2 separate regions of the Homo sapiens genome follow, and region 1 is linked to region 2. Evidence: fine-mapped expression QTL. A gene starts in region 2. The other region holds a variant in brackets. All regions are shown on one strand. Distances are between the middles of the regions. Region 1 holds the start of LOC101927759 (a long non-coding RNA gene). Region 2 holds the start of NQO2 (N-ribosyldihydronicotinamide:quinone dehydrogenase 2).

Region 1 (8,404 bases), 22 kb after region 2:
GTGATGCCCCACACCATTTTGACTCCCCTGGATACAAGAAAATTATAACATTTTGCCCCTTTTAAATGCTTTACTTGACAGATTTGAAAAGCTTGACCAATAGGGAAAACATGCCCTAATTATAGCTTTTGATATGGTTTGGGCAGAAGCTAAGCCAAACCTGCTTAGCTTGGTCAGCAGAATGGCCCCAAGGTGGCCCTGCGTGTGTTGTGATACGTGCGGGTGGAGGCCATCCATATGGCTCTGGCAGTGCTTGGTGAGGGCAGCACTGCCCTTGGACCCTGGCAAGTGGCACCCCAGGCCCTGCATTCTGATGGCCGCATGCTGGTCTCTGCTGGCCATGCCAACCCCCACAGGGGCAAGGGGCCTATGGAGCCAGCACACACCCACCTCCCAGTCCGCAGGCCCCTCCCAGGCCTGCTTCCCCAGGGGACCTCTTGGTGCCTGCGTGAGTGTCCCTGGGCCTGAAATGTGGCCGAGTAGTGGCCACCTGCCAAAGGGAAGGTGGTGGGCAGAGCAGTTCCAACGTGCTGGGGTGTCCCACGAAGGAACCCCTGGTGAGGGGTGGCAGAGGGAGGGAGTGGGGAGCAGACTCCAGGTCAGGGGCTCCAGGGAACCCAGAAACCTAGGGGTCAACTGTTCTTCCAGGTTGTTTAAGGGAGGTTTGTCGAGACAGGGGGAGAGCTCGTTCTTGAGGGGTAGGGAGTTTGCTGGGAAAATGCACGCGTCACCCCTTTTCTGTGAACTCTCTCTAGGTGCACGTGCCTTGCCCATGTCCTATTGGTTTGGTATTTTTTAATTTTCTATTTGTCAGTGCTCTTCATATATCAGAGAAATTAATCCTATTATGTCCTTTCAAAACACAATGATTTTTCCTTCTACAGGCAGTGCACATTGACTAAGTTCATTCCTTGCTTTTGTTGTTGTTTGCTATTATAAATAGGATTTTGTCTTCAATTATATCTTCTAAAAGTTCTTTTGATTGGTGAAAGCTATTGATTGCTGAATATTGGTTTTTGACCCCGACCATTTGCTGTTTTCTCCTCCTAATCATAATTTTTTCTTAGTTGGTTTCCAGTAATAAAGTCATGTTGTCTGAAGCTGGGTGCGGTGGCTCACGCCTGTAATTCCAGCACTCTGGGAGGCTGAGGCAGTGGATCACCTGAGGTCAGGAGTTTGAGACCAGCCTGGCCAACATGGCGAAACCCCATCTCTACTAAAACACAAAAATTAGCCGAGTGTGGTGGCGGACACCTGTAGTCCCAGCTACTTGGGAGGCTGAGGCAGCAGAATCGCTTGAACCTGAGAGACGGAGGTTGCAGTGAGCCAGGATTGCACCACTGCACTCCAGCCTGGGCAACAGAATGAGAATCCACCTCAAAAACAAGCAAACAAACAAACAAATAAATAAAATGATGTTGCCTGAGGAAAAAAATGTGGATAGTGGTGTGTGGGCCTCTCACTCCCCACCTGACAGGGCAGGCCTGGATGAGGGTGTGGGTTTTAAAGGAAGTAATGCAGAGGATTGAGTGTGACATTTTTAGAAAAAAAGTGGTCCTCTTTGAAAGGAAAAAGTACGTGATTCCAGTTACTGATAGTCTACTGAAGGAAATGATAATTTATAAACCTGACCTTGCTTCTTCACAGGCCAACTGGTCTCTTATGTGTCATTAGCCAAGTTCAAATTCTTCTTGCTTTTAAAAAAATCTTTTTTTTTTTCAGTTTGCAGAAGTACATATTATGGCCAAAAAAAAAAGAGACAATATGAAATATAAAAAGAGAAAATCCCTTTAATCCCTCCCACCTCAGAAAGAATCACTTTAAATGGTTTGATTTATTTTCTTAGGGCCTATATATTTTCTCACATACATAATTTTTATTATAGGTTTATTACATTTACTGCTCTTTTACATGAATGGTATATCATAAATACGGCTTAAAATTTGTTTGTTATTTTCATTTAACAGATATCTTGAACAAACTTCCATGGTATATATTATAGCTAGAATAACCTCATTCTGGAATAATCTATAGTGTGAATGTACCATAATTTGCCCAATCAAGCAGAACTATAATGTTTGGCATCTGAATCAGTTGCAAAGATTGTAGGTTAATTGCAGTTATAAAAATAGAGCTTGGAAATTGCAACTGCCCCAAGTTCTTCACGGCTCTTATGCAAGGCTGTGTCCTAAAGCCATAGGGAAGTTTAGCTTTCAGTTGCCTGTAACATTAAGGTTGTTTCATGATTTTTTGAAGGTTTGTTTCACACCATTTCCCCCCTTAAATCATTTAACTGAATGGTATGTAACAGGTGTAGTTTCTAATGAGTTCTTTTCTTCCCCTGTGGCTTTAGCATGGCACATTACACTTCTGTGGATTTAAAGTCCTTGCCCCTCAGATCAGCTTTGCTCCTGAAATTGCATCCGAAGAAGAAAGAAAGGGGATGGTGGCTGCGTGGTCCCAGAGGCTGCAGACCATCTGGAAGGAAGAGCCCATCCCCTGCACAGCCCACTGGCACTTCGGGCAATAACTCTGTGGCACGTGGGCATCACGTAAGCAGCACACTAGGAGGCCCAGGCGCAGGCAAAGAGAAGATGGTGCTGTCATGAAATAAAATTACAACATAGCTACCTGGGGATACTTTTTTCTTTCTGTTTTTTGTTTGTTTTTAATTTTAGCTTTAAGGAGCACATGGCCAGTACTGTTTCAGGGGAATATTGGGTGGCGCTGGGGTTTGGGCTTCTATTGATCCCATCACCCAAACAGTGAGCATAGTTCCCAATAGATAGTTTTTCAACACTTCCTTTCCTCCCTTCCTTCCCGCTTTTGGATTCCCAGCATCTATTGATCCCGTCTTTTCACCCCTGTGTACCCAATGTTTAGTTCCCACTTATAAGTTAGAACATGGGGAATTTGGTTTTGTTTCTGTGTTGATTCACTTAGGATAATGACCTCCAGCTGCATCCACGTTACTGCAAAGGACAGGATTTCATGTTTTTTTATGGCTGCATAGTATTCCATGGCGTCCGTGTACCACACTTTCTTTATCCAGTCCACTGTTGATGGGCACCTGGGTTGATTCCATGTCTTTGCTACTGTAAATAGTTCTGTGATGAACATACAAGTGCAGGCATCTTTTCATAGAATGATTTTTTTTTTCCTTTTGGTAGATACCCAGTAATGGGATTGCTGGGTTGAAGGGTAATTCTATTTTTAGCAAACTAGAAATATTTAATGAAGTACATGAATGAGTGTCTTCAGAATTGTACACAGTGAGATCAAATATTTTAATAATGAGCTTGTTATGTTGAATTCTATTCTGACCATCACTCACTGAGATTTTCTTTTCTTTCTTTCTTTTCTTTTCTTTCTTTTTTAAAGAGACAGAGTTTCACTATGTTGCCCGGGCTGGTCTCAAACCCCTTGCCTCAAGTAATCTTCCCACCTTGGGCCTCCCAAAGTGCTGGGATTGCAGGTGTGAGCCACCACACCTGGCCCAGATTTTCTTTA[A/G]TATTTGTCTAATATCTTTCCATCTCCCTATATTCAAGCTTCATGTAATTTTATTTTCTGGTAATTCTCTGAGCATAGAGCTGGATTTGCTAGTTTTTTTATTTTATGACTCAACATGACAGTTTCTATTTTTCATAGAAAAGTTGAATCTGGGCCTGTTGCTTAATTTTCTTCTTTGTCTTTTTAAATTTACATTAGGACTATGAAGTTTTAATTGAACAGCCATTAACATATATGGTTATATGTTGCATGATGTTTCAATCAGTGATGGACTGCATGTACGATGGTGGTCCCCTAAGATTATAATGCCATGTTTTGTTTATTAAAATTTATTTAAGATTTATTTTATTATTTTTATAGATGAGGTCTCACTCTGTTGCCCCAGCTGGGTGCAGTGGCATGATCATACCTCACTAGGCTCAAGTGATCCTCCTGCCTCAGCATCCCTAGTAACTAGGACTACAGGCACATGCTACCACGCCTGGCTAATTATTTTAATTTTTGGTAGAGACAGGATCTCATTATGTTGCCCAAGCTGGTCTTGAACTCCTGGTCTCAAGCAGTCCACCCACCTCAGCTTCCCCAAGTGCTGAGATTACAGGCATGAGCTGCCTGCACCTGGACTAATACAGTAATTTTACTGTACCTTTTCCATGTTTAGATACAGAGATACCTATTATTGTGTTACAGTTGCCTACAGTATTCAGTACAGTAACATCTCTACAGGTTTATAGCCAAGGGCAATAGGCTCTACCATAAAGCCTGGGTGTGTAGTAGGCTGTACCATCTAGGTTTGTGTAAGTGCATTCTATGATGTTTGCGTGACAATGAAATCAACTAATTATGAAATCACTTAATGATACATTTCTCAGAATGTATCTCTTTTGTTAAGTGAAACATTACAAAATTTATTTTTTTGGGCACAGTGGCTCACTCCTGTAATCCCAGCACTTTGGGAGGCCAAGGCGGGCATGCCGATCACGAGGTCATCTCCTACAGGCAGTGCACATTGACTAAGTTCATTCCTTGCTTTTGCTGTTGTTTGCTATTATAAATAGGATTTTGTCTTCAATTATATCTTCTAAAAGTTCTTTTGATTGGTAAAAGCTATTGATTGCTGAATATTGGTTTTTGACCCCGACCGTTTGCTGTTTTCTCCTCCTAATCATAATTTTTTCTTAGTTGGTTTCCAGTAATAAAGTCATGTTGTCTGAGGCCGGGTGCGGTGGCTCACGCCTGTAATCCCAGCACTCTGGGAGGCTGAGGTGGCGGATCGAGACCACCCTGGCTAACACAGTGAAGCCCTGTCTCTACTAAAAATACAAATATTTAGCCGGGTCTGGTGGCGGGCGCCTGTAGTCCCAGCTACCCGGGAGGCTGAGGCAGGAGAATGGCGTGAAGCTGGGAAGCAGAGCTTGCAGTGAGCCGAGATTGTGCCACTGCACTCCAGCCTGGGTGACAGAGCGAGACTCCGTCAAAAAAAAAAAAAAAAAATTAATGGCTGGGCACTGTGGGTCATGCCTGTAATCCCAGCAATTTGGGAGGCTGAGATGGGATAACTGCTTGAGGCCAGGAGTTCAAGACCAGCTTGGGCAACATAATGAGACCCATCTCTACAAAAAATTTAAAAATATACATTAGTTAGGCATGGTGGCACGCACCTGTAATTCCAGCTACTCAGGAGGCTGAAGCAAGAGGGTCACGTGAGTCCAGGAGTTCAAGGCTGCAATGAGCCATGACTGTGTCACTGCACTCCAGCCTGGATGACAGAGCAAGACTCTTTTTAAAAATAGCCAGGCGTGATGGCTCTCACCTGGAATCCCAGCATTTTTGGAGGCTAAGATGGGCAGATTGCTTGAGTTCAGCAGTTTGAGGCCAGCCTGGGCAACATGGCGAAACCCCAACCCTATAAAAAAAAAAAAAAATTAGCCAGGTGTGGTGGCACACATCTGCAGTCCCAGGTACTTGGGAGGCTGAGGTGAGAGAATCGCTCGAGCTGGGAGGCAGAGGTTGCAGTGAGCTGAGATCACACCACTGCACTCCAGCCTTGGGTGACGGAATGAGACCTGTCTCAAAAAACAAATAAATAAATAAAAATAATTTAAAAATCATTAATTGCCAGTTACAATGAAAATTTAAAACTTTTAAAAAATTTAGTCTGATGGCATTGTACCACTGTGCCGTGTTCACGTAACCCTACTAATAATCACCCTGACACACAGCCACATGCAGATGGAGGAACTTCCCTAAAAGCAAGTTTGAGGGATTAAATATCATCTTTGTCATCATATCCTCCTCTTTTCCCTTTTCCTCCTCCTCCTTGTCATCACTACTGAGGACAGCACTGCTGGCTGTGCCCAGGGGCCCTTCTTCCTCAACGCCCCCAGCACCACCCAAAGTCCCCCTCTGTGGAATCGGAGCACTGAGTGTGTTGGCCTCAGGGACACTGAAGGAAGCCGCCCGCCCGTCCTCTCAGCCTTGGAGTCTGTTCAACCATTATCATTCAAACCACCTTCCATCAAAGGTTTGAATACAATGAGCAGCTGCTCCTGCATTCCTCCAGGACACAGGTTCACCAGCTGGGTGTCTGTCAAAGACAATGAGCCTCCGAGTTGGTCCAAACTTGACTCTCCTTGAAGGTCTTCTCTGGCCATCCTCAAAATCCACAGGATGAAATGTGTTCGATGAGGACAACTCACTCGTGTCGCGGCGTTTGGATGGGCTGCGGCGTGGCCGCTTCTGCCGTAGAGACGGAGCCTTCCTGTGGTTCGCGCACTTCCTTCCTGAAGCCTCATATTTCCCATTCCGTTGATACTTGGCCACCTCAACCTGCAACGTGCAGTTTCCAGTGTCATCTTCATCCAAATGCATGAATGCAAGATCCACAGCTTCCCTCTTCCAATGATCGCACAGCCTGTCTCCTTTAAGATGTCCTTGGTTATCTCTGTAAAACTTGACCTTAAGTTCTTCTGTCTGGGGATCGCTCATAATAATGCCAAATGGACAGGCGTGTGAATGCCTCCACGGTAACGACCAGAGGCAAACCGGCACATACACGTTTGTATTTCTCCTTCTTCAGCATGAAGCCTTCCTTTTTCTCCCCTCTTTGTGGGATCAGTGGGTTTGGGGTTTTTCTTGGTGGCAGAGCAGCGCCGTCACCGAGCAGCCGTCGCTGGCCTGATATGCAGCGGTGAAGTCTTCACTGGTTTCTCTTCTGCTCCTGTGTGCTTGCAGAAACCGGGCTGGCTCTTGATTGGGATTGTAGGCTGCAGAGGCTGGGGAAGGGCAGACAGCCTCGGGAGACACGCCGGAAAGGGCGGCTCCCTCGTGCTCCTCAGTGACTCAGGGTTTTGGCCACATAGCTCCCCTCCTCCACCCTCGCTCAGCAGGCTGCATCCGGGGCGGGGCTGGCAGGCAAAGAGGCTGTGTCACAGCCCTTCAGAGCCTCAAGCTGGGGTCCCTAGGGTTTCTGGACCTCAGATCACTGTGAGGCAGGAGGTCCTCCACCCTCCCTCCGGCAACTCTGAAGTATGGGAAGGTGCGTTCTCGAACTGCCGAGGGGCCTGTTCCTGTGTGGGTTGAGAGGATGGGAAGTTGCTGAAATCCAACCTCTCTGAGAGCCGGTGCTGTCACCTTGGCCTGAGTATGCTGAAGACATTAATTCCGGTTCCCAAGCAAAACTGTTAGCAATTCGAGGGCTGGGCTCTTGCCTATGTCTCATCTCCTGTTAGTACCGGGCACCCTGATACATTTTCTGCCGGTTTTTAAGAATTTTTTTTTGAGACGGAGTTTCACTCTTGTTGCCCAGGCTGGAGTGCAATGGCGCGATCTCGGCTCACCTCGACTTCCACCTCCCTGGTTCAAGCGATTCTCCTGCCTCAGCCTCCCGAGTAGCTGGAATTACAGGCATGCGCCACCATGCCCGGCTAATTTTGTATTTTTAGTAGAGACAGGGTTTCTCCATGTTGGTCAGGCTGAACTCACCCGACCTCAGGTGATCTGCCTGCCTTGGCTTCCCAAAGTGCTGGGATTACAGGCATGAGCCACCGCGCCCGGCCGGTTTTTAAGATCTTATTGCTGAAAAACTTAAAATAAAAAATAAATTCAGTATCAGCAGGGCAGCAGGAATTGCCATTAAAAAAAAAAAAAGAAAATTGGAAATGACTGCAGCCAGGTGTGTGTGATTGGGCCCCGCGACCTTTTTCTTAGGCAAACAGGGCTTTGTGGATGCAGAAAGACTTCTTTGGTTGTGTAGTTTGTCTCAGAGCCTCTCGTGGGTGGAGCCTGGTAAAAAGAGGAAAGAGACTCATGTTGCTCAATGTGAGGAAGCACCAGGAATTTTGGAGAAGTTCCCAGCAGCTCAGGAGAGTGGCTGGTGCCTTGTCCCAGGGGAGAGGGAAATAAGCACAGGCCTATTTCTTTCTCAAGACGGAAAAACCGAGCCCCAGAAAATGGCGATAAGATGGGGATGCAGGAAAAAGCTAGCTAATGAACAGTTCAGCAGTGGGCACCGTGTGGGAACCTCTCCTAAGCCGCCCTCCCTCTGATGGATGCATGCTCAAGTGATTTCGTTGGCCCTTAAAGGAAAGTGTTATTCCATCCTGTAATCCTAGCACTTTAAAAGGAGGCCGAGGTGGGAGGATCACCTGAGGTCAGGAGTTCACGACCAGCCTGGCCAACATGGTGAAACCCCGTCTCTACTAAAAAATACAAAAATTGGCCGGGTGTGGTGGCATATGCCTATAGTCCCAGCTACTTGGGAGGCTGAGGCAGGAGAATCACTTGAACCCGGGAGGTGGAGGTTGCAGTGAGGTGAGATCGTGCCATTGCACTCCAGCCTGGCCACAGAGCGAGACTCCATCTCAAAAAAAAAAAAAAAAAAAGACATCTGCCC
Region 2 (8,231 bases):
AAGCGGTGAGAAAATATTTTATCTCCGTCTAAGTAGGTCCTACCAGAGGGGAAACTAGACTCACTCAAAGATTGCTTTGATCAATCCACACACAGTTCAGTGATGGACAGAGTGTCAGTATCTGTTATATGTGTCACTATCCCATGCTAGAGGTGTCAATAGATTATGTAACCTTTCTGAGGAATCACAATACAATAATTGATAATAATATTGATCACATAAACATAGACTTCCTTGACACAGGATTGCCACAGACCTTCAATTTGTAAAAAAAAAAAAAATGCAACATCTGTGGAAGTACTATAAAGAGAAGCAGAATAAGGCAGATATGCCTGTATAAGACTAAGGGAGAATCTTAAAAGCTGCAAGAGATGTACAAGGGATCCTCAATAAATCCATACATCTGTGGCCAGTGAATTTTTGACAAGAGTGCCAAGTCCATTCAATGATGAAATAATAGTTTCTTTAATATATGCTGTGAGAGAAATGGATTTCCACATGCAAGACTAAAGTTGGGCTCCACTTCACACCATATGTGAAAAATAATTCACAACCTAAATATAAGAACTAAAGCCATATAGAGGAAAACGTAAGAGTAAATCTTCATGATCTTGTGTTTTGGGTTCTTAGATAAGACACTAAAAGCCCAGGAAGAAACAACAAAAAATAGGTAAATTGGAGTTCATAAAAAATGTGAAACTTTTATATCAAAGGACATTTTCAAGAAAGTGAAAGACAACCTACAGAATGGGAGAAAATATTTGTAAATCCTATGTCTGATAACATCCAGAATATGTAAAGAACACCTACAACTCGGCCGGGTGCGGTGGCTCACGCCTGTAATCCCAGCACTTTGGGAGGCCGACGTGGGCGGATCACCTAAGGTCGGGAGTTTGAGACCAGGCTGACCAACATGGAGAAACCCTGTCTCTACTAAAAATATAAAATTAGCCAGGCGTGGTGGCGTATTCCCGTAATCCCAGCTACTCGGGAGGCTGAGGCATAAGAATCACTTGAACCCAGGAGGCGGAGGTTGCGGTGAGCCGAGATCTCGCCATTGCACTCCAGCCTGGGCAACAAGAGCAAAACTCCGTCTCAAAAAACAAACAAAAAACCTACAACTCAACAACAAATAGACAAACAACCCAATTAAATGGTCAACAAAGGACTTGAATAGACATTTCTCCAAGGAAGGTATACAAATGGCCAGTAAGCACATGAAAAGATGCTCAAAGTCATTAGTCCTTAGGGAAATGCAAATCAAAACCACAATGAGATACCACTTCGCACTTGCTAGGATGGCTATAATTTAGAGGGAAAAAAAAGAAACATAACAAATGTGCGTGAGAATGTAGAGAAGTTGGAACCTGTGTACATTGTTGGTGAAAATGTGAAATGGTGTAGACGCTGTGGAAAACAGTTTGGCTGTTCCTCAGAAAGCTAAACATAGAATGACCATAGAATTGTAATACCGACAATTCCACTCCAAGGTGTATAACCAAAATTATTGAACACAGGGACTGAAACAGATACTTGTACACCAATAATCATTGCAATATTATTCACAATAGTCAAACAACAGATGAGTGGATAAACAATGCCTGGTACCCTTCCTTCCTTCCTTCCTTCCTTCCTTCCTTCCTTCCTTCCTTCCTTCCTTCCTTCCTTCCTTTCTTTTTCTTTCTCTCTTTCTTCTTTCTTTTCTTTCTGTCAGTCTTGCTCTTGTTGCCCAGGCTTGAGTGCAATGACACAATCTCAGCTCACCGCCACCTCTGCCTCCTGGGTTCAAGTGATTCTCCTGCCTCAGCCTCCCGAGTAGCTGGGACTACAGGTGCACACCACCATGCCCAGCTAATTTTTGTGTTTTTAGTAGAGATGGGGTTTCCCCACGTTGGCCAGGCGGTATACACATTTTTCTATTATTCGGCCATAAAAAGGAATGAAGTTCTGATGCATACTACAACATGGATGAAACTCAGCAACAAGGTTTTTGAGGAAAAAAAGCTTAGTGAAAAGGCCACATCTTGTAGGATTCCACTTATATGAAATACATGCAATAGACAAATTCATGGAGACAGAAAGTAGATTAGAGGCTACCAGGAGTGGAAGGAGGGGAGAATGGGGATTTATTATCCAATGAGTGCAGTGTTTCTATTTGTTTTTGTTTTTGTTTGAGACAGGGTCTCGCTCTGTCATCCAGGCTGGAGTGCAGTGCCACGATCTCAGCTCACTGCAGCCTCCGCCTCCTGGGTTCAAGCAATTCTCCTGCCTCAGCCTCTGAGTAGCTGGGATTACAGGTGTACACCACCTGGCAAATTTTTGTAGAGATGGGGTTTCGCCATGTTGGCCAGGCTGGTCTCAAACTTTTGACCTCAGGTGATCTGCATGCCTCTGCCTCCCAAAGTGCTGGGATTACAGGCGTGATCTATGGCCCCTGACCCAAGTGTTTCTATTTGGGATGATGAAAACGTTTTGAAAATAAATAGTTGTAATGGTTGCACAGCACTCTAAAGGTAATTTATGCCACTGAATTGTACACTTAAAATGGTGAAAATAGAAAATTTCATGTTATACAGATTTTGCTACCCAAAAAACAAAACAAAAAATCCAAAACCTTTATGTTATTATGAAGAAGCAGTTTTCCAAAGGAATAGGGATGCTGGTAGCAGAAGGGAAAGAAATCTCATTAAATAAAAACAAAAGCAATGACCTCTTCAGGAGGTGGCTCAGCTAGTTTAGCTTTACCTTAGCACCATGATGGTTCATTTTATTCAGAAATAGAAACATGGGGCGTTGGGGAGAAGAGGAGATGTGTACCTGCCTCACCTGCCTCCCTGCCCAGAATGCCGACTCCGACTCTTGCTTTCCACTAAGGCTGGGGATTAAATGAAAAGTGAGAATCTGGAAACCCCCAGAGATGATGTTTGTCGTTGGAGCTGATTTTATCTCATTTTAGTAGCATGACCTCCTCCTCAAACTCAGGATGCAATTATGGTCAATCTCATTAGTGTGCAGTAATTGCTCAGCCCCAATACCAGATTAGCAGGAAGTTCTGTTATTTTCCTTTTGAGGATGGGCTCCTACTGAACTGTCCTGGAATCTACCACCATTCAGGTTACAAAAGACCCAGGGAACTAGGCCAGTCCAGCTCCCAACCCCAAGCAGGGAGCAACTTGCTCAGTCCACGTTGTGATAGCTCCTCGCTGCCACAAGGTGGTGATGTTGCATCACACACGCGCATGATGGGCGCGCAGGCGCCAATGCTCCCAGGACCTGCTGTTCCATTCCTAAATGAAAGTTGTTCCCAGGATCTGGACTCACAAGACAAGGCAGCCTATTCCCTGCTGGGGAGCTCAGGGGCAAGAGGGCATCTCGGAGGGAGGGCACATTCTCACCTCTGAAGACAAGGAGAACATCATCAGCACATAGACCAATCCCAGCAGTGCACCTTAGGATGGGGAGGGCCACTGTGAGTTACAGCAAAATGAACGAATGAATGAACCAATAAATGTCTGAGAGGGAAAGTCCCAACGACCCTCAGGAGGTACAATCAAGAGTTGCAGTTATTTTCGTTAGGAACGTTCTAAACACAGGGGAAACCTTCCTTCCTTCTGCTCTATTGTTGGAGTGGGGCCATCCCGGGACACCAGAAATCAAGGAATTGAGTTTGGAGAAGGGACTTGGGGAGGTCACAGTGGCAGGTGACTGCCAAATGAGGTGGCAGAAGCCAGCAAGCGCTGGAAAAAGTCGGCCCAAACTGTTCACCAGCACCGCCCCCCATAACTCCCCACCGGCTCTGGTTTCAAGACTTTCCGTTTTCTAGGTATTTCCTTGGCCTTAAACCATTTTCCTTTAAACGAACTTTTTCTGTGAAGCCATCCGGTTTCCCCCGATAGTGGCATCTCACAAAGGACAATCCAGTATCCCAACAGCGTGTTGCGTTCCGCGGGACGCAGATTTCCTTCACAGGCACCCCCCGGGTTGCGTTTTTATAGCCACACCCACCCGCCCCCCTATCTCCTGGGCACTGCTAATGAGTCCTGCATTTCTCTCCTTTGGTCTTTGGATAAATGAACCATCCGTGCGTGACCTTTGCGAGGGCATCTTGCATAATACCAGTACACCAGCGGCGCCGTCGGTGAGTGACCTTTGGGACTGGTTTCTCTCACCAGCGTAACTCCCCGGGAGATCCGAGCAAGCTGATGAGTGTATCAGTGGCTCATTCTTTCTGTTGCACCACGGACCCTCATTCTGTAACCGGGATACCAGCCAGAGATGGGGAGCGGGAGGCGCAGGGCAGGGGCGTCCCTCCTCTCAGCACAGCCTCCCCGCGCTGGATTTCTATCAATCCAGTTTCCACCTGCCTGGAAGTCAGCAGGGTCCTCCCCAGTCCCAGATCGCCGGGCGAGGCCCCAGATGGACCTCAGGGGCGGGGAGTGGGCGGAGCTTAGGGGCCGAGGCGAGGTGTGGGTGGGGCGGGACGCCGCTGTGGAGGCGGGGCCTGGGCGCGGACGGGCGCGGAGCGAGGCACCGCACCGCCGGGGCGGGGAGTGGGCGGGGCTCGGGGGCGGGGCGGGGTGTGGGCGGGGCTCACGGGCGGGGCGGGTGAGTGGGCGGGGCCTCGGCGTGGTAGGCGCGCTGCGTAAAGAGGCCTGCAGTCCCGCGGCGCGGGGCAGGTTCCGGGCTGCTTAGGTTGGCACCGGTCCGTGGTCCCCGGGGGCGCAGTCGCAGCGCTCCCGCCCTCCAGGCGTCAGCGAGTGCGCGGTCCAGTGCGGCCGGAACCTGGCGCAACTCCTAGAGCGGTCCTTGGGGAGACGCGGGTCCCAGTCCTGCGGCTCCTACTGGGGAGTGCGCTGGTCGGAAGGTGAGTGATCCCCTGTCGGGGACCGGGGGACTTGGGAAGGACAGTTCCCGGACTGGACGGCCAGAACGCTCTCAGGGATTTCAGCTGGCCGGCCATATGGCCCTGTGGGTCGTCGCGCCCGGGCCAGGGACCATTCTGTACATAGGATCGTGCTTGGCTCTCACGGAACGCGCCCACACGCAGGGTCCCGGTGTCGAATCGTCTGGTGGAATCTGCCCTCAACCCTATGGAGCGGGTGCTGGTATCATAGTCATATTACAAGTAGGAATCAGCGGGCCCAAGGTCAGTCTGTAAAGGGGGTACCGGGGTTTAGGCCCGTGCGCTGCCCAGCGCTGCCCTGAAGGCGCGGCTGAACCACTGGTTTGCGCTGCCTTTGTCAAGGACATTGTGGCACTGTGGAAAAAATGAAAAATCAGCTTCTCTAACCTATAATCTCTCTGGGAAAAAAAAAAATCAGCTTTTTTTTTTTTCCCCGAGACGGAGTCTCACTCTGTCGCCCAGGCTGGAGTGCAGTGGCACGATTTCGGCTCACTGCAACCTCCGCCTCCCGGGTTCAAGCAATTCTCCTGCCTCAGCCTCCCGAGTACCTGGGATTATAGGGGCGTGCCACCACGCCTGGCTAATTTTTTGTATGTTTAGTAGAGACGGGTTTCATGTTGGTCAGGCTGGTCTCAAACTCCTGACCTCGTGATCCGCCCGCCTGGGCCTCCCAAAGTGCTGGGATTGCAGGCGTGAGCCACTGCTCCCGGCCCTCTTTTTCTTTTTTCTTTTTTTTTTAGAAGAGTCTCACTCTGTTGCCCAGGCTGGAGTGCAGTGGGGCAATCTCAGCTCACTGCAACCTCTGCCTTCCAGGTTCAAGCGATTCTCCCCCCTCAGCCCCTTGAGTAGCTGGGATTACAGGCGCCTGCCACCATGCCCGGCTAATTTTTGTATTTTTAGTACAGGTGGGAGTTTCACCATATTGGCCAGGCTGGTCTTGAACTCATTCTTCTTCCTTTCTTTTTCTTTTTTTTTTTTTTTTGAGATGGAGTTTCACTCTTATTGCCCAAGCTGGAGTGCAATGGCACAATCTCAGCTCACTGCAACCTCTGCCTCCCGGGTTCAAGCTATTCTCCTGCCTCAGTCTCCCGAGTAGCTGGGATTACAGGTGCGTGCCACTACACCCAGCTAATTTTTGGTATTTTTAGTAGAAATGGAGTTTCACCATATTAGTCAGGCTGGTCTCAAACTCCTGACCTCAGGTGATCCGCCTGCCTCGGCCTCCCAGAGTGCTGGGATTAATGAACCACTGCGCCCGGCCAAAAATCAGCTTCTTTAACCTTTAATCTCTGAAAAAATAAATCAGTTTAACCTTTAATCTCCGAAGATCACAGCCAAAGAAATACATGAAAAGGAACAAGTATTAAATAATATATACTTCTAGCTGTGCTGTTTATAGTTTTGGGAAAAAAATGGAAATAACCTAAGGTCCCAGAAATAGGAAAATGGGCACAAAAGGGTATGCAGGCAATGGTTTAGCTGCCGCATGAATACACACTGAATACACTGTGAGATGTTGTCTGTTAGAATGCCCAGCACGGGGACTGTCCACATGGAAAGAGGCACAGGAAAAAAAGTGAAAACATTATAAAATAACTTCTTAAAATTAAATAATGTACACGTCAAAAATATCAGAGCCCACTTGACCTGGTATATACAGTTTAATAACCACATGGCTCTTTTTTCCTGTAGGCCTGGGTAGGTGCATAGTTTCTAAAAAGGGAGAGAACTGTCACTGCTGTGGATGGGGTGCCAAGGGAAGTGCCTGGGGTCAAGTGAACAGTGACACAACTGCAAGTCAAGAGCCTGTGTTGGAGTCTTTCCCCACTATTTCAAATAGTATAGAAAATAGAGCTGAGTCACTCAAATAGAGCTGAGTTAGTCACTCAGCTCTTGGACCTCAGATTCTTATTCTTAACCGCTAGGGGGATGGAGACAGAAGTCACAAACTCACATGCCACCAGCCATATGATGTAAACATGTAAACTGGGCCAAGGAATACAAAAGGGAGTGGTGAGCTGGGGACACTGAAGAATGGATGCCCTGTCTAGAGGAGTGAAAATGAAGCATTTCATACAAACAACATGATTTCGGGCAATCACTTTGGGAATCAGGATAAGGTGTTCCCCCAGTCTGCAGAAACACTGGCAACATTTACAAAGGTAAATCATTTCATATCACTCTATTTTCTTTTTCTTTTTTGAGACAGAGTCTTGCTCTGTTGCCCAGGCTGGAGTGCAATGGCACAATCTTGACTCACTGCAACCTCCACCTCCCAGGTTCAAGTGATTCTCCTGCCTCAGCCTCCCAAGTAGCTGGGACTACAGGCACATGCCACCATACCCGGATAATTTTTGTATTTTTTAGTAGAGATGGTGTTTTGCCACATTGACCAGGCTGGTTTCAAACTCCTGACCTCAGGTGATCCCCCCACCTCGGCCCCCCAAAATGCTGGGATTACAGGTGTGAGCCACCACAACTGGCGATCATTCCATATTACTCTCCAGCTTAAGAGGCTCCAAGGGCTTTCTGTCAGGCTTAGAATAAAATCCTCACCCCTACCCTAGGAGGGGTCAGGTCAGACCCCTCCCACCTCCCTGACTGCATCTACCACCATCCACTCTTTTTTTTTTTGAACCACAGTTCAGCCAAACAGGCTTTCTTTTTTTTCTTTTACTTTCTCTTTTTTCTTGAAACAGAGCCTAACTCTGTCACCCAGTCTGGAGTGGAGCAATCCTCTAATCTCAGCCCCCTGAGTAGCTGGGATTACAGGCATGCACCACCACACCTGGCTAATTTTTAAAAATCTTTGGTAGAGATGGGATCTCACTATGTTGCCCGGGCTGGTCTCAAATTCCTAGGCTCAAGTGATCTCCTGCCTCAGCCTCTCAAAGTGCTGGGCCTTCTGCTTCCCTGGGCTTTGCCAGGCCTCCCTATGCATTGTGATAGCCAAAGTTTGCTTTCTACAAAGTCACCTCCAGGCAGTGACTGTCCACCAGGGCACTGTAGAGCCTCCCAGCTAATGATGAAGTCACTCACTCTCCTCTCTTTTTCCTTTAAGATAATCCCTTTCCAGACCCGCCATTTTGGCTCACCCTGTAAGTTACAGCCCCACTTCTCACTGCCAAGTGTGGGTGTCACTGCTGGCTCAGGGAGCATGGATCCTGTAAACTTGCCTCATCGGGAGGCTTTGAGGAGTGACCCCCAGGAACTAGACAAGTAACTTGTTCTTCACAATCACTGCCCTCCCAAGAACATCCAGGATTTCAGCCTCAGTGCTAAGACAACCATGTCTCTCCCTGACACATGCTCGCTGCTGAGAATTCTA

What was found. PIP is the estimated chance that this variant, and not a neighbour inherited with it, causes the effect.
Region 1: its variant is fine-mapped to the expression of NQO2 in whole blood (TOPMed, PIP above 0.99).

Annotation. Positions count from the first base shown.
Region 1 is chr6:3,017,126-3,025,529 of GRCh38, forward strand. NQO2 (N-ribosyldihydronicotinamide:quinone dehydrogenase 2) reads left to right here. Exons shown (of 7, transcript NM_000904.6): 7 at 2,354-2,630. The coding sequence ends at 2,530. It overlaps LOC101927759 (a long non-coding RNA gene), which reads left to right and starts at 6,938. Exons shown (of 3, transcript NR_152848.1): 1 at 6,938-7,048. It also overlaps the pseudogene HTATSF1P2. RefSeq lists enhancers at 1-405, 406-905, 6,112-7,311 and a silencer at 8,350-8,404. The variant A/G (reference allele first, on the strand shown) is at 3,511.
Region 2 is chr6:2,995,222-3,003,452 of GRCh38, forward strand. It overlaps NQO2 (N-ribosyldihydronicotinamide:quinone dehydrogenase 2), which reads left to right and starts at 4,673. Exons shown (of 7, transcript NM_000904.6): 1 at 4,673-4,864. It overlaps NQO2-AS1 (NQO2 antisense RNA 1), which reads right to left and starts at 4,454. Exons shown (of 2, transcript NR_186367.1): 1 at 4,170-4,454. RefSeq lists a silencer at 4,422-4,671.